2 separate regions of the Homo sapiens genome follow, and region 1 is linked to region 2. The links come from fine-mapping of genetic effects on gene expression. Tissue or cell type: atrial appendage. Region 2 holds a variant in brackets; the other region holds the start of a gene. All regions are shown on one strand. Distances are from middle to middle.

Evidence for each region. PIP is the estimated chance that this variant, and not a neighbour inherited with it, causes the effect.
Region 1: it holds the start of CPE, and the variant in region 2 is fine-mapped to the expression of CPE in atrial appendage (GTEx, PIP 0.98).

Annotation. Positions count from the first base shown.
Region 1 is chr4:165,374,864-165,382,974 of GRCh38, forward strand. CPE (carboxypeptidase E) reads left to right here and starts at 4,145. Exons shown (of 9, transcript NM_001873.4): 1 at 4,145-4,665. The coding sequence starts at 4,359. RefSeq lists a silencer at 4,178-4,437 and an enhancer at 5,917-6,461.
Region 2 is chr4:165,412,599-165,420,709 of GRCh38, forward strand. The region is part of intron 1 of CPE (carboxypeptidase E); the gene reads left to right. Among named protein-coding and RNA genes, the nearest start is that of MIR578, 30 kb to the left of the region's middle. The variant A/G (reference allele first, on the strand shown) is at 4,585.

The DNA.
Region 1 (8,111 bases), 38 kb before region 2:
GTCCTGATCCAGGTGTTCAGTCTTTTTCTTTTCTTTTCTTTTTTCTTTTCCTTTCTTTTCTTTTCAGCACTAGCAATCTCTTGCTCCCTCTGGTTCCCATGTCAGTCTCATCTGTGCTCCATATGAGATGAGATAGAAACTAGCTCTTCAGGGAGCTCACTGAAAGGCTCAGGACATTAGAGTCATGATCCACTCCTCCTTCTTTCCTGAAGGAGAGGCCTTAGTTCTATGCCTTCTACAGATCTCTCCGAGCCTTGCCAGCCATGGGAAGGTGCCCATTCTCCTAGCTTTCCCAGGCATCTGGACTATGCCATGTCTTTAAGCACTCTGTAAGAGGCACAACAGAAGCCAGCCCCTTGAGGGGTGTACTGAAAGGCCAGAAATGTTGGATGCTCACCCTACTCTCTATCCCCTGCCCTCCCTACACCAGGAAAGGATTGTAGTCTCTCTGGTGCTGAGTTGTACTCGCAGGTAAAGTGAAATAGCTTTTCTTATCTGTTTCAGTGTGGCTGATTGTGATTTTTTGTTTGTCTGGGGTACTGAAATTTCTTAACTTAATCCTGAACTTCTTATGAAGCTAATTTGTTACTTATATCACTGTTAAATCTGTGTTTCTGTTGGGAAATGAGGGCTGGAACTTCCTATTCTGCTATCTTGCTGACATCACTCTATCCTTGATGTTCTTGAGGTTATTTATGTCTATTGTATCTGTATGGGGGAGATGTATGTATTAGTGGTGGTTCTGGCTCAGAGTCTCTAATGTGGCTGTGGTAAACCTCAGATGTCAGAGATGGAGCCCTCTTGAGGCTCAGGTGGGGCTGAGATCTGCCCCTGCCCACCCACATGGTTGTTGACAGACCTCAGTTCTTAACTGAATGCTAGACCGAGGATGTCAGTTTCTCTCAGGCTGTTTGCCAGATGCCTCAGTTCCTTGCTATATAAGCCTCTCCACAATATGGCAGACAACTTCCCCAAGACAAGCGATGGAGTGATGGGGGACTGGGGGAAGGAAAGGAGGGAGAGAGAGAGGGAGAGGGGGAGGAGAGAGCGCACACACAAGCATGAGAGAGCAATTAAGATGGGAGCTGCAGTCTTTTTAATAACCTAATTTTGGAAGATCATCTCATTACTTTTGCTGTGTTATGTTCATGAGAAAACCACTAAGTCCTGCCTACACTCAGATGGAAGAAATTAAGTTTCATCACTTGCAAAGGAGGAGTATAAAGAATTGTCCCATCACAACACTATATGATGTCATGCTACTGCATATCTCTTCCTAACACTGTATTCAGTGATACAACATTGGTAGTTTGAAATCAGCCATGGTGGGAATATTTAAACCATGGAAATTAGCAAACATTCTAAGTCAGACTTTTCCCCCCAGACAGCTGACATTTACCAGCACACATCAGGATGAATATAGAGCTATGTGTTCACAAAATTTTTATGAAGTAGACGAATTTTAGGAAGGGCTTTGAAAGAAGGAAATAAAATATTATTGATAAAGAAAAAGATAGTTTCTTAATTTAAAGATAATAGAGGTGAAGCAAGAAGTGGAGGGAGACCTAGGGAGTTTAAATATGCTCTTATGGATGCCTATAATGACATGAAGAAAAAGCAGCTCTTTCTTTCTCTTTTTGTTTCTTGTGTGTGCATGTGTGCACATGATTTGAAATGGAGATTGCATACTAAATTTAACTATGTGTACACACATTAAAGACTTGGCATACAAGATTTTTCTTTAATCCAGCAATCAGGATGGGTATATAATCTTTTACATAATTGCCTATGAAGCCACAAACAAGTAATCCATACGCCAGTAAAGTTGATACAGCTGACCTATACCTAAAATAGCTCAGAAATTCAAAGACCAAATTTTAGTTCATTTGAACTGATGCCTTGGTGTATGTAGTACGACCAATAATATGTGAGGAGTGCCACCATTTATCAAATGAGCAGGAATTCACTTCAAAAAGAAAATTTCCAGAATCATAGCATTTTAGGTCTGAAAGAGACAGTGGGAAACCTACAGTACATTATTTCTCAAAATGTCTTTGTCAATCAAACATCAACATCAGAAATGACTGGTCTTCTTTTTAAAACCTAGAAGCTTGTTAATACCTGAAACCCACCCCAGACCTGATGAATTCATAGGGGCTTAAGAATCTGCACATTCTATAAACTCTCTACATGATTCTGTTGCAAGCAAACGTTAGAGAGTGAAAAATCCAAACCTTTTATTTTATAGATTAGGGAAACAAACAACTAAGCTGTAAAAGAGAACCCCCTGCCCAACAAGTGAGACCACATAGTAGGCATGATTTTACACATTACAATTTTTTTTTCTCCAAAATAAAATTTTTTAAATCCAGCAATCAGGGTGGATATATAATCTTTTGTATAATTGCCTATGAAGCCACAAACAAGTAATACATATGCCAGTAAAGTTGGTACAGCTGACCTACACCTAAAAATAGCCCAGAAATTCAAAGACCAAGTTTTCATTCCAAAATTTTTTATTTTGGAGAAAATAGAACGCATATCCTTTGTTCAAAGAGACAGCTAAGGAACAACACAGGACTTCAATGAAAAATATGTTGTTTATGTGTGTAGTTACTAGTCAGTATGCCCCACCTAGCCACAAATTAGTGTGGTTACTCTAAATTGCTAACATGAAAATCTTAACCTCCTACTTCTGAAGTTATTTGGTTTTAGCTACTCAATTTTTTTTTCTAGGCTTCCAAGGTTGCTGTTTTGGGCATGGTTTTAGAAATATAATTATAAGTTTGATTTCAAACTTCTGGACCATGTAATCAAGCACAGACTGGTCATAGTGGAAAATATACAATTTTTAGCTCTGCCTACATTGACAAAAAAAAAAATGGCTGGATCCACATCAATTCAACTTGAGTGCCATGTGTTTACAGTGACAGTTTCTCCCCGAAAACGCAAAAAAAAAAAAAAAAAAAAAAAGAAGATCCATGCTGCTGTAGTATATGTACATAGGGGTGTTTAAAGCCAGCCCCTCCAGCAGCACCTTACCAACCATGTCTGTGCTTTTATTTATTGATCCAATAAGATGACTTAAATATCTAACTCCTTTTCCACGTAAAAGTTTTTATTATGTGCAATGCATTGTTAAACAGGTGAAGAATGAACAAGTTTAGAAAAACAAAGAAGCTTAACATGGAAAATTACCCGCATGGTGTCCACTTTTCCTGCTCGGTTGCAATACCCAATGGATTATTTATTAATTTAGATTTGTGCTGTCCCTGAATCCAAACAGCAGCCTCTTTAGAGTAACATCTGCTCCAGACATTGCTCCAGGAATATAAATCCCGACTAAGGGGTGGATATTTAAAGCTGTAAATGATTTTTTATTTTTACAATAGCTTTGCAAAAGGAACGGAGGTGTCATGTCATCATCAGAGTTTTCTTAACAGGATTTAATCTTAATGCCAAACTAAATCCTTTGTCTAAAGCATCAGCAGAGTTGTACTTATTTTCCCCATAGTATTAAAGAGGAGGGCTGGTGCAGGCACAGCCATATGACATTGCCTTATTTATTTTGTCTGTTTGTTTTCTGGAAGAATCTAGGAATGTGCATAAATACAATTAAGGACAGTATCTACAAATTGGAAGAAAGCATTTCTATTCTCTTAAACCTCTAAATCAAAGCACTTAATGTTCTGATTTCCAGCAAGACCTTCTAATAAATGAAAACCCAACCCTTGGGTTTGTGTTTTGACTCTTGATACAATTATGAAAGACGCATCAGGAGATGGCAAGTGGCTGCCAGTACTTCCTTTTTTCTGGAATATTCTCTAATTCTTGGTGGATCAAGATGGAAACTGGTAGGCTTGGAATAGATGTCCCTTTAAAAGGCTCCACTAACAATACAAGAATATTTTTTCCATACGCAGTGACGTGGGTGGGTCATGGGTGTCTCAATGACAGTAACGTTCCCGAACCCCGGACCTTAGCTGTCATTTCACCTGCGTCGTCCCGGACGCCATTTGGCTGTTGACGTGGTTCCGAGCCAGCAAATAACGCCAGCAGCCCTCCCAGATCCACGCCGGCCCGTCTCTCCGCCGGCCCCCTCCTCGCAGTGGTTTCTCCTGCAGCTCCCCTGGGCTCCGCGGCCAGTAGTGCAGCCCGTGGAGCCGCGGCTTTGCCCGTCTCCTCTGGGTGGCCCCAGTGCGCGGGCTGACACTCATTCAGCCGGGGAAGGTGAGGCGAGTAGAGGCTGGTGCGGAACTTGCCGCCCCCAGCAGCGCCGGCGGGCTAAGCCCAGGGCCGGGCAGACAAAAGAGGCCGCCCGCGTAGGAAGGCACGGCCGGCGGCGGCGGAGCGCAGCGATGGCCGGGCGAGGGGGCAGCGCGCTGCTGGCTCTGTGCGGGGCACTGGCTGCCTGCGGGTGGCTCCTGGGCGCCGAAGCCCAGGAGCCCGGGGCGCCCGCGGCGGGCATGAGGCGGCGCCGGCGGCTGCAGCAAGAGGACGGCATCTCCTTCGAGTACCACCGCTACCCCGAGCTGCGCGAGGCGCTCGTGTCCGTGTGGCTGCAGTGCACCGCCATCAGCAGGATTTACACGGTGGGGCGCAGCTTCGAGGGCCGGGAGCTCCTGGTCATCGAGCTGTCCGACAACCCTGGCGTCCATGAGCCTGGTAAGGGCGCTGCCCCCTGACAGCCCTGGGGGCATCCCGGAGGGGGGCGGCAGAGGGTGGGACTGGTGGCGGTGGGGGAAGGAGGGAGGGATGGGCCCAGGGGTGCCTCTTGGTAAAAGGTATCTAAGGTGGAAGGTGGGAAGTGGAGGGAGGGATGGAAATGGGGAAGAACCCGACTTAGAGCGCCAGTGGCCCAATTTCTGCTTTCCCGTCCCATCCCCCCAGCACCAATCCCATCTCCCCAGACCTTAGGCCACCCTCTAGTAAGTATAGGCTTGGGAGGCTGGGGTGGCGGGGGATGGGGGGGATAGCAATACAGAAAAAACAAATCCTGACGCACGCAACCCCAGCGGTCGCTCTCACTTTGCTGTGTGAAAAACCCAAAGGAATGATTGCGAGTCCCCCGCAAGGGGGGTTGGTCTTCCTTGCTGACAAGAGTAGAAAGATAAGGTGCAGAAGGCAGTGATTGAGAGGAAAGGAGAACGAGGGAGAAAGAGTCATTTATCATGTTTTCTCTAATTTCCAGAGGACCAGTTTATTGGCTCTGTGTACCCATCTCTACCTGTGTGTGTATACGTATTAGGTACACTCGCTGCTGTGGATGCTTGGGGAATCTTAGGGATATTGCCAATCTGGGGTGGTGGTGTATAAAGATACGTTGGTGCCCCTCCTCCTACCAGGGTGAAAAGTGGTTTCTGACTTTTGAAACCAGATTTTGAAACTGCACAAGGCCTTTCCAAGGAAAAAGGAGTATTCCATTTTCTCTGCTATAACCATTTGAGATGAATAGTTTGTGATGGGGTCTTTATTCCAACTGATGTTCCCAAATAACCATCTGTATTCGTCTTTCCTAGGAGTATATTAAAGCACCTTTTGGTTTATGTTAATTGTGATGCATTTAGTATTAATAAAGAGGTATTTAAAAATGTTCTTGGGACTTTTTTCGTTATGTTTCTGCTTAGGAAATAATTTGGGCCTGGTCTTCTGATAATCAAGGTACAGCTAAAGTAATCTGTGCTAATAATATCAGCATGGGATGGATGCTTAATTTTTGTTTAATGACAAAGCAAGCAAGAAAAGTAGGCTAAAAATTCTCAGTGCAGGGCCAGTATAGTTTTATAATGATACGTAAGAACCAAACTGAGAAGAGATTAAAATAAGTGATCAATAGACATTTTGATCTTCAAATATATAGTAGGTGGGTTGATCAAGAATAAATCTTCAGGAAATATTTCTTACCTTCAAATAATATAAGAAAAAAAGGTTCATGTAAGTTTGCTGTCAAAATTCTAAGATCAGATCCTAGAAAACATTTAATATTAACTACTCTTATCTACCAGGATTCAGCATGTAGGATTGGACATTTTGAAACTTAGTTTCATACTGTTATCTGAAGACAGGGAAAAATTTAAAATGTGATAACTGATTTTCAGCTAAATCCAATAACCAAAGCCAAGATATCCTAGGCACAGTTAAAGCTAATGTAAGTATTTGTGAGTCTCCTGCTGCTTACTTAATGAGAACCCTTTGTTACTCTATTTTGTAGATTGATCCCAGAGTTTTTTGCGTTGTTACTTCAAGAGATTATATGAAAGCTAATGTTTAACTTTTTGTTGTTTCAAATTTGGAAATAAAATTTTAAAGTGATATTACAGTTAGAATGTGATATGCTTTAGAAAATGAAAACAATGATTTCTTTGCTTAAGTATCTGGAATATATAGTTCATCAAGGTTTGCAAATCCTTCTTTTAGATTGCAAGCTGTATGAAGTGGGGACCCTGATTCCAGCACCCAGCTCATGTTTGGCACACAGCGGGCTTGAATATACATTATGAAATAATCTACATTATGGAAAAATACTGAATATGCAGTGTGGAAAAAATGAATCCATCAATAGCTGCATAACACAGTGTATTAAAATAAAATGTTTTATTCTTCATACATTCAAAATACGTTGATTGAATTCCTCTTACAGAGACAAACTCGGAAGTGTTGTACAATATGTACTTTACAATTCCTTTTTAAATGAAGGAGACTCTAAGTCTATGGTATTACTAATAGAATACAAAATGTCTGTGTCCCTTATATTTTTAAAAGTAGAAATAAACTATTATAAACCAACACTAACAAAAGTACAAGGTGATATCCCCCTCCATCACCTTTTATGAGCGTCAAGGAGGTTAGAGATCTTCAGGAAACTAGTAAATATAGAGATCTGATCAGTATACAAGTTTGATGGTGCTTGTGTGAATTAACTTTAAGGAAGTTTGGAAAAAGGAAAATGTTCACCATTCTTAAATGGCCTTTCAGTTTCTTTTAGGTTAAACTATTTTAAGAAGTAAAAAGGAATACTTATTCTGAGGTACAAGTGGGCTCATTCAGTGTTTTTTTTGAGCACCTGTATACTCAAGGTGGACCAGGCGTCTGTGAGTTGTGCCTCTGCACAACCCATAGAAGATAACACAGAAGATAGTCGCTTGCCCTGAGGGCAATAGAGAATTGGGAGCTTGAAGAACAGCATAAAGGGATGTGAGGCTGCAAGATCGGCTTTGGGAGGACTGGAGAAAAAGACAGTAAGGTCAGCAGGTCAGGGAGACTGGATTATTGAAGAATTGATGACAAAAGACAGTAGGTCAGCAGGTCAGGGAGACTGGATTATTGAAGAATTGATGACAAAAGACAGTAGGTCAGCAGGTCAGGGAGACTGGATTATTGAAGAATTGATGACAAAAGACAGGAAATGTACAGTTTGTTGACATTTACAAATTCCAAAATAGCTGGTATAGATATCTGTCTTCACTAGGACCCCTGCTTTTGAAAAAGGGCCAATTGTCTTTACTATTTTCACCTTTTAAGTACCTTATTTTTTGGTTTGAAATAACCTTTCTGATTCAGCTTTAGGAAATAATATTGAACTTAAGAAATGTGTTTACTTGACTGAAATTTTGAGGTGAAATTGCTCACTTTTGTTTTATTTTCCAGCAAGAGAGGTGTCAGATTTGTTGATTAGTTTTCTTAATCTAGATTCTTTTCCTGAACATTAAAAAAACAGTGGATTTCTAAGGATTTAGTTGTCGTAACAGAAGAACTCCAAGAAAATACAACAACATACCCACAAAAAGCCCTTTCTTGTGGTAGAATAAGCAAGCTAGAGGTTTACTTTGTTAGACTAGCAGTTTTTGGACAGAGATGTTTGTTGATACAATTAGCTCTCTTCCTGAGCAGAAAGAAGTGATCTTTATACATGCTTGGTACAGGACATGGGGTGTAGTTGAGGTTATCTCCTGAAAATGACTTTCTTTGCAAGATGTTCAACTTTTGAATTCATCAAAAGGCAAAGCAAATTCCATTTTGAATTGGTCATTGAGGAATAGCCAAACCTATTCTGTGATGACATCTTAGGAATCAGCTTGATTGTTGACCAGCTGAATGTTGGGTCTCAGTCA
Region 2 (8,111 bases):
CCAGACTCCAATTCCAGATCCTGTGCTCTTGGCACCACTCAGTCCTGTCTCAGGCAGGCAGCATTGCCACTGTGCACTTTATCCTAAAAACAACCCTCTGAGGGAGGTGAGAAAGGTATGTTTCTTCACATTTAAAAAATATGAACATGTTTAAAAAGTAAACAGTGATCTATTTACATCTGTATGCTGGGAAGAAGTTCTAGAGTCATCATCTTCACCTCTTCAATGCTTCAGTCATTGGCTTCCCAGCCTCTAAGCAGCCATGTATTCCATTTCTTTTTGCACCGTTATAACCAGTGATTTTCTCGAATCCAAAATCTGTAACGTTCCTCTGCTTAATTCCCTGCAGGTGCTCACTGTTACACCTAGAATCAAACCCAGACTTCTTCGCATGCGCTTGAGATTCTTCTGGCTGGGTCCCTGCACACCTCTGCAGTGTCACACTTGCACTCTCTGAGCCCTAGCTCTACAGGGCTTTTCTCATTTTAACAAAACTTGCTCTTTCTTGTCTCTCACATGTTGTATATGCCAGTTCCCTGGCCTCAACATTCTTTTCTTCCCCTCTTCCCTCTTACTCTACCCTTCTTAAGTGGCTATTCTTGTCCCTTCTTTTCATCTCTACCTTGATGCCATGTCTCTATAGTGTGTTGTAATTGCATGTCCAACGCCACTTTTCCTGAGTCCACGGGCCTGGAAACCATGTGATGCTGGGTCCAAAGTGAAGAATTGGGGGATAGAGAACGGGAATCTTGTTCACACAGTTCTCTCCAGTACCCAGCATGGTGACCCAGAACATGTACATGTAAGGCATTTGTACATGTAATTAATTAGCAGGCATGTTTTGAACACCAGCTTCATTAGGAGTGATGCCATATTTGAGGCAGAAACATAGTATGATGGAGAATTCAAGAGGCTTTGGACTCATAGCTCTTAGCTGAATTCTGGCTTTATCAGTACTACCTTTGAGGCTTTAAGCAAGTTACTTAACTTTTCTGAGCTTACTTTCTCAAATAAAAAGCAAGGATAACTAAAATGCTTTGGAAACTTTCCTGTGAGAAATTGATGTGTAAATAGATAATTAAGGGACATGCTAGGAGTTGTGTTACAGGCATGAACAGGAACACAGAGGAGGGGACAACCAACACAGCTCAAGAGGTCACAGAAGATGTCATGTAAGCCTTTTCTTTTTCTCAGAGCCTCTGGCATTGACGTGCTTGGAGATACCTGAAAATTGGGCAGCTGTTTATCTTTCTGGAAATGTTTAGTCAAAGGTCTTCTGAGCATGGAGATACAGGAAGTGATCTTCCATTCATGCATATTTATGATTCTATTCTAAGTTAAATTATTAATAGCATTTGACGAGTATTCTATTTTGATATGGACAAGAAAAATCGTTCACTTTGAAACATTTATTGAGCTCGCTTATAGCACACTGGGAAAAAAAGTCTTGGTTTTGTTATTTTTCTCAAAAGATTTGTATGTATTTTCCTGCAATAATAAACCAAAAATAAAATCCATGAAGGATCTAGAACTTTTAAGGCTATGTAATTCATATTTTAAGCCTTTACTGTTTCATAAATTATTTAAATAATTTGAGGAATTACTATTGAAGAGAGTCTTAATCTGTCAAATTGATCAGATTGGATTTATCTTGAAAACAGTTCTGCATCTTTGGATAAAAATCTATTTTATTCCAAAGAAAGCTTTTTTTATGGCAAATAAAAGCAAAGGTATACATTTTTAATAATCTTATGATAAATAGGATGATCTGCTTTAAAGAAGAGTAAGTTTATAGAGTCAGAGTATACTTGTACACACCTCAAAGTCAAACGTTTGAAAAATGAAGTTTGTTATGATTCTAAGTGTAGTTTCGAATGTAAGAAAAAGTTAAAAGTGTGATGCAGTCAGGAAGCTTGGAATATTCTCCTGCATAAATTATATGTGTTAACAGCCTTAGCAGTATTCTCTTGTAGGCCACTTGGCTCCATCTTAAAGTAGTTTGATGAATATTGACTGGTCTGCAAAATTTGACTTAAGAAATGTTGAGCCAAAGTATCCTGGATAACGTAGATATAGAGATAAAGTAATATATATATATACACACACACACACATACACACACACACATATTTACATATATACACATATGTACTTATTTACAGTGTATATAAAAAATAATTTAGAAGAATGCATCCAGAAACCAAATTGAGCTTGAAAAGTACCACCTCACATGACCGCAGGGACAGCTGGTTATTGTCTTAGGATATATTTGCATTTTGAAGTGAACTTTAGTGACATTACAAAATGCCAGATTGGAAAAACAGCCATTATTTAAAAAAAAAAACAAAATATAATTAGCACCAGATGAATGAGTTGTCTCATAATCACCTCATTATTACAAATTAATTCCAAATGAATATGTTTGAACAGGGCATTGGTTTTGAATCTTTAATTTATCTCCTCCTTAGCCTTGCTGCTGACAAATCATAAATAGATATAATTAATGAAAATGTTAATAGTGCCGGTCTCCAGAATATCTCTAGATCACTGACCTTCTGATTGGTGGAAAAACCTTTGGAGAATGATCTTTACAGGATTCCATGGCAGTGAGTTAATCTATTTTTCTCTACATGGGGGCAGCAGACGAGGTGAGTTTCTTCCTCTGTCATTTGTAGGATCTACTGTTATTCTCTGGAGAGCTATTGTGTCAGAACGGATTTGGATTATTTTTTAAAACTACTGCTACCTAGAGGGTAATTTTATTAAATTCCTTTATCATTTGGATTAAATACAGCAAAATGAAACCAGCTCCTCCTGCTCAGAGGAGCTGTCACCACAATCTTTAATATTTTCTTAGCATTATTTCCTTTAAAGTATGCTTTGGGACAATTAATAATGACTAATACTTAAATTTTCACTATGAGTAAAAGCTTTTTGGTAAACATTTATTATATATTCCATGTCTTCCTTTTATTCTCTAATTATTTCACCTATTCACCTAATTATTTTGTAGCTCAAGTGTATAATTTAAATGATGTAGAAATATAGAGATCAAAATTAATACAAATACATTTATATAGTGATGTGTTACATGTTATATTTGTCACAAATATAGCATATATTTGTTTGTCTAGTACATATATAGTATATACAGTACATATATATTACATACATACATATAGTACATATTTGTGTAGTACACAGGTATAGTGCATATATATATATATTTGTCACATATATAGAAGTCCTGTGTCTTCCTTTTAGGTAACATGGGAGAATGTAAGTTTTTGTTTTCGGTCCAAGAATGACACAGATTTTTTTGTTTGTTTAGTTAGTTTTCTTTAGGATCTAGATCCCCCAGAGGTAAACACTAAATATAAAACCGGGAATTAGAAGCTGGCCTTGGGTTCTGCAGTTCTAGGCATGGCGTTAACGTTTTTCTTAAAACTTAAGGCCCAGACTACACAAGGAATCTTCCCGCCTGCACTCCCCTGCCAGCTCAGCTACTTCCCTACTCCTGCGCCAACTCAACCGTAACAGTAGCTGAGACGAAAGCATTGCTCTGAAGTAAGGTGTAGGGAAGCTTTCTGGCTTCCTTAATAAAGTTACACACGATCTTCTAAGCTTGGCGATGGAGGGAGAAGGCACATGGGAGGGTCTTCACCGATCCTCTGGCCCTGACTCTGCCTACCCTTCATTCATTCACCTGCCCCTCTGGGGGCTCTGGGCGGTGACCACTGCCACTATTGGGCTAGCTAGTGGTGGGGGCACTGCTCCCCTTAATGCTCTGGCCCCTAGGGGAGACACAAAATATTGTTTTAAATTTCCAGTAGTGTAGCTCATGGCAGGCTGAGGCACTTACACAAAAGGGTGCTGGAGGCTTTAGGGTAACACAGTAGAAATCATCAAAGGGAGAATATGCGGTAGACAATTTAGGCTCTTCAACATAACTTGCTTGATCTCCAGAGGCCCCAAACTCTGCTCATGCCAGGCTTTGCACATGCCGTTTCCTCTGCTTGGACTGGTCTTCCCCATCATTGCCTGGCTATCTTCTTCTCAATTACTAGATTTCACAGTAGGGGTTCCGCCTTCTTGATTCCCCCGGCCTGGGTTATATAGGTTTGTCCTAGATAGTGCGGTGGCCCCACATATGCCTCCTCATCAACCTGTTTTACAGTTGTTTATCCTGTTAGGCCATAAGCTCAGTGGCACCAGGGACCTTCTCTGTCTCTCTCAGCACTGTATTCTCATCAGCTTGGACAGTGCCTGGCACACAGTGGGGACTCAGAAAATATTTTCGAATGTGTCAATGAGTCCATGAATGAATGGAATTTGGTAAAAAAGAGAATTCTGACCTCCAGCTTCTCTTTATCTTATGAGATGCTTTCTTCACTGTAATCTTGCAGGACTGGAGTTAGGTTTTATTTAGAAAGCTGGCAGGTTTATTTACAAAAGATGCAAATAAACCACTGGGCTTAGGGGACAGAAAGAAAGAGCCATTTTCTTAGACTAGAAAATAATATGGAATGGATTAGGGGGCAGAAGAAGGAATGGGTGAGTGGGGTGGAGGAATGGCAACAGATA[A/G]GATGTTGATGGTTATAAAAATTGGGAAACTGTCCAATTCTCCTTAGTTTAGACTTTAAAAAAAATGAGTAAATTTCCTAGAAGTCAAGTGTAGCCATATGAAAATATTTGGACTAAGTTAAATATAATTCCCTTGGTATTATTGAATTGCCTTTGACTTGGAGACAGAGCTATTCATTATAGAGCAGTTTCTAAGAGCCTGGGCTTCACAGAGATTATCTCTTTTCATTCAACAATGTAATGAAGTAGGAATTATACTTCTATTTTACAGATGAAGAAATAGACTCAGAGAGTTTAATTGACTTTAGGATTGTAAAACTACAAACAGTAGAACTGGCAGCCATTCATTCATTCCACAAATATTTATTGGCAGTATTTTTTTTTTTTATCATTAGCTTTGTCTTTTTTGATGGTAGAAAATGCATTTCATTTAGAACTATGATTTTAGCCCAGAGAAAGTGATGTAGAAAAAAGCACTAAGTTAACTAGATCATATCAGTATAAATGTGAAGCCTCACCATTTTACTCATCCAAAAGTGTCTAGGGCCTTAAGTTCAGTTCCTTTTATTACAACTTTAATATTTTGTCTGTCTTAAAAAAAAAAAAAAGACATTAAATCTCCAGCCCCTGGTATCGTGCTTGGAACATGGTGGGTACTTAATAAATAATTTGTAGTGAATGGGAAAATTGAGAACCATTAGTCATTTTCTATTCAGTATTAACAAAGTCTGACTTACTTTTTTGTTTTTGTTCTGTGTGGGCACATTTCACTGAGTGCAACTTATGAAGGACCTCAAGATCAAATTCATGTCGTACTCTTGGAATTGAATTCTGACAGGTGGACTGAGAGTTTTTTGTCCTCTAAGCCTTCATTCTAAGACAGATGACACCAATGTAGGTAGTTATTCAGAATAATAGACTCAGGAATTTAATAAGGGTGTTGTTTAAAACGCAAATATCACCAACCAGTGGTAAAGCAAACACATTCTGTGTGAATGAGTACAGCCCACTGATTGACATTCAAGACCCATTGGAAAAATCAGGAGACACAAGAGTGGGAAGAGTGCAGATTGGAGCAGCTATCCAAAAATACAGAAGGCCAGAAGGTGGTGAGAAAAATGTCAGACAACAGATTGTGGAGAAAAATAAACAAGCCAAGAAAAGTCCTATTTGGCCTTAAAAGAGGCAGATGGTGACAGGAAGTGTTCAGTGAGGAGTGATTGTGCTGAAAATCACAAAGTCTATAAAATTATCCATCTGTAGTTTGAGGTTTTTGGGGAAAATTAAAACTCTTTGCTAGCATTACAGGGAAGGGTGATAGCACACAAACAGAATATTAAGTAAGTGTGTATTTGTGTCAGGATAATAGAAATGAGAGATGCGTTATTCCATTAGAATAGAAGTTTTGTTTACTTAGAGATTGTGACCAAAATTATAAAACGTGTTTTGTTTTGCATAAAAGCAGTTGAACTTGTATTAAATCTGTTCTTTCCACATTTTTGATGTAAGTAAGAATTCTCCCAAGAATGTTAATAGATTGCTAAGGTAGCAATGATAATTTTCTAACTGAAGGAATGTACTAAACATTTTTTTCCATTAGAGAGTTTTTTTGGAATGGGATATAGAAAATGACAAATCACAATGCTAACTTTAAAGCAAAGAATTTTAATTTGAAAGTTGAGAAAATATAGCAGGGAAAACTAATCATTTGGAATAGTATGAGATAATTTGAAAAAAATATTATAAATATTTTAAGATAGATGTGGTTGAACATTTAGAATTGGGAATCATTTTTTGATAGTTTGGGACCTAGTTTTCTGTGCTTACATTTTAATTCAGTACTACTTACTCCGTGGTCTTCTGGTGGTGTGCAACTTGAGGAATCAAATAAGCCAGGGTTTTTACAACTCTTTTCTAGGTCATTAAAGCATTTCTGCTATGTGCCTGAATATGTCTTTGATTTCATGCATAAGAAATATTAGATGCTTCATTCTCCTTCTTTAGAAGAAATACTAACTGAATATGTTGGATTCTTCTCTATTTTTATTGTTTCTCTCTTAGATTTTTAACCACAGTTGCTCAAGTCTAAGTTTTGTATTTTAAGTTTAGACGTGTAAAGTAAAAGGCTGGGAGCTGAGTGTGTGGTGATGCTTCCTCCTTTTCCCTTGAGAACTGAAGGCAAAAAATTAAATTTATTATAAAAATTTGTTTTACTTTTAAAGATGTGATTTTCCAGACAGAGAAACAAACTCATGTATCGGTGTATTTTTTAATGAATTAGAAGCATGAAATCTAGGTACTTTATGTAAGTCATTTTATTTAATCCTCAAAATAATGTTTTAAAATAGTTATTATTTTCATTCTCATTTTATAATTGGGGAAATGTAAGATCATCAAAACCAAGTTTCAGTTTCCTAAAGTCACACACCTAATAGCAGAGTCAGGATTTGAACTCAATTCCGTGTCTTTCAATGGCAGAAGGGGTTTTGCACATTAGATTACATAAGCCATTGTCCATTGACTCCTTGTCCTTTGCACTTGTCCAAGAGTGGTCCCCAGGCACAAACATGCATGTGAAGAAAGCTCCAGAAGAGATTCTGATTCAAATCTCCAGTTGGGAACTAATACATCAAACATTTCAAAAATCAATCAACCAACCAATCAACCCAGCCTTTATTGTATGGTGGTATTTAAAAATCTAAACTCTATTTTCTGCAAGTTGCTAGCCAATTGAACCAAACTTCTTCACTGGATAATATTTTTAAACATAGATTTAGAATGCCTTTTTTTCAAATATGAAAATAAAAGATATAATAGCTTATTTCTGTGATATATGCATACATAATTGCTTCCCACCTAATTTTTTTTTCACTTTTGTAGCCTTATATGTGTGACTGTCTTAATATCTCAAAGGGCTAGTGCTATCCTCACCCTTATTCTTAGATTTTATCTCTTTAATTATTTTCTTTGCTTTGTTATTCCCACCAGTTTGTCTTCTAGAAGGTCTTCATATCATGTTATCACTTAATAAACATTCTCTTTTTTATTCTGAGTGAAAATGCACCAAAGTATAAATCTGAGAAAAAGTGAATGTTTTATAACTTTTGTTTCTCAGAAAATTATAGCAGTTATGTTAATATTGGTGATATACTTCTCATTGTAGTCATTCCTATGCTAGCAATATTTTTATTGCTACTGTGGATAAATTATTTCATTATATTTTTAACTTGTTATTGTTGGAGTAAAACAACTATTTATTTTTCATATAAATATTTTGTTTTTGGCCTTTTTGCTGAACTCTGAATTCTAATGGCTGTCCAGTTTGTTTATTTATTTCTTTATTTTATCATCTCCATTTTACAGGTGATGTCTAGTTTATTTTTTCTGTTTTTTTTCTGAGTGTACTATATAAATTGTATACAGTGTTGGTACTTTATATTTTTAAGTTTATATATCGTAATTTATTCCTATGCATAATTGAATAGTAGAGAATTTCTAGTATACTGTTACATAGTATGTCTTTTCCC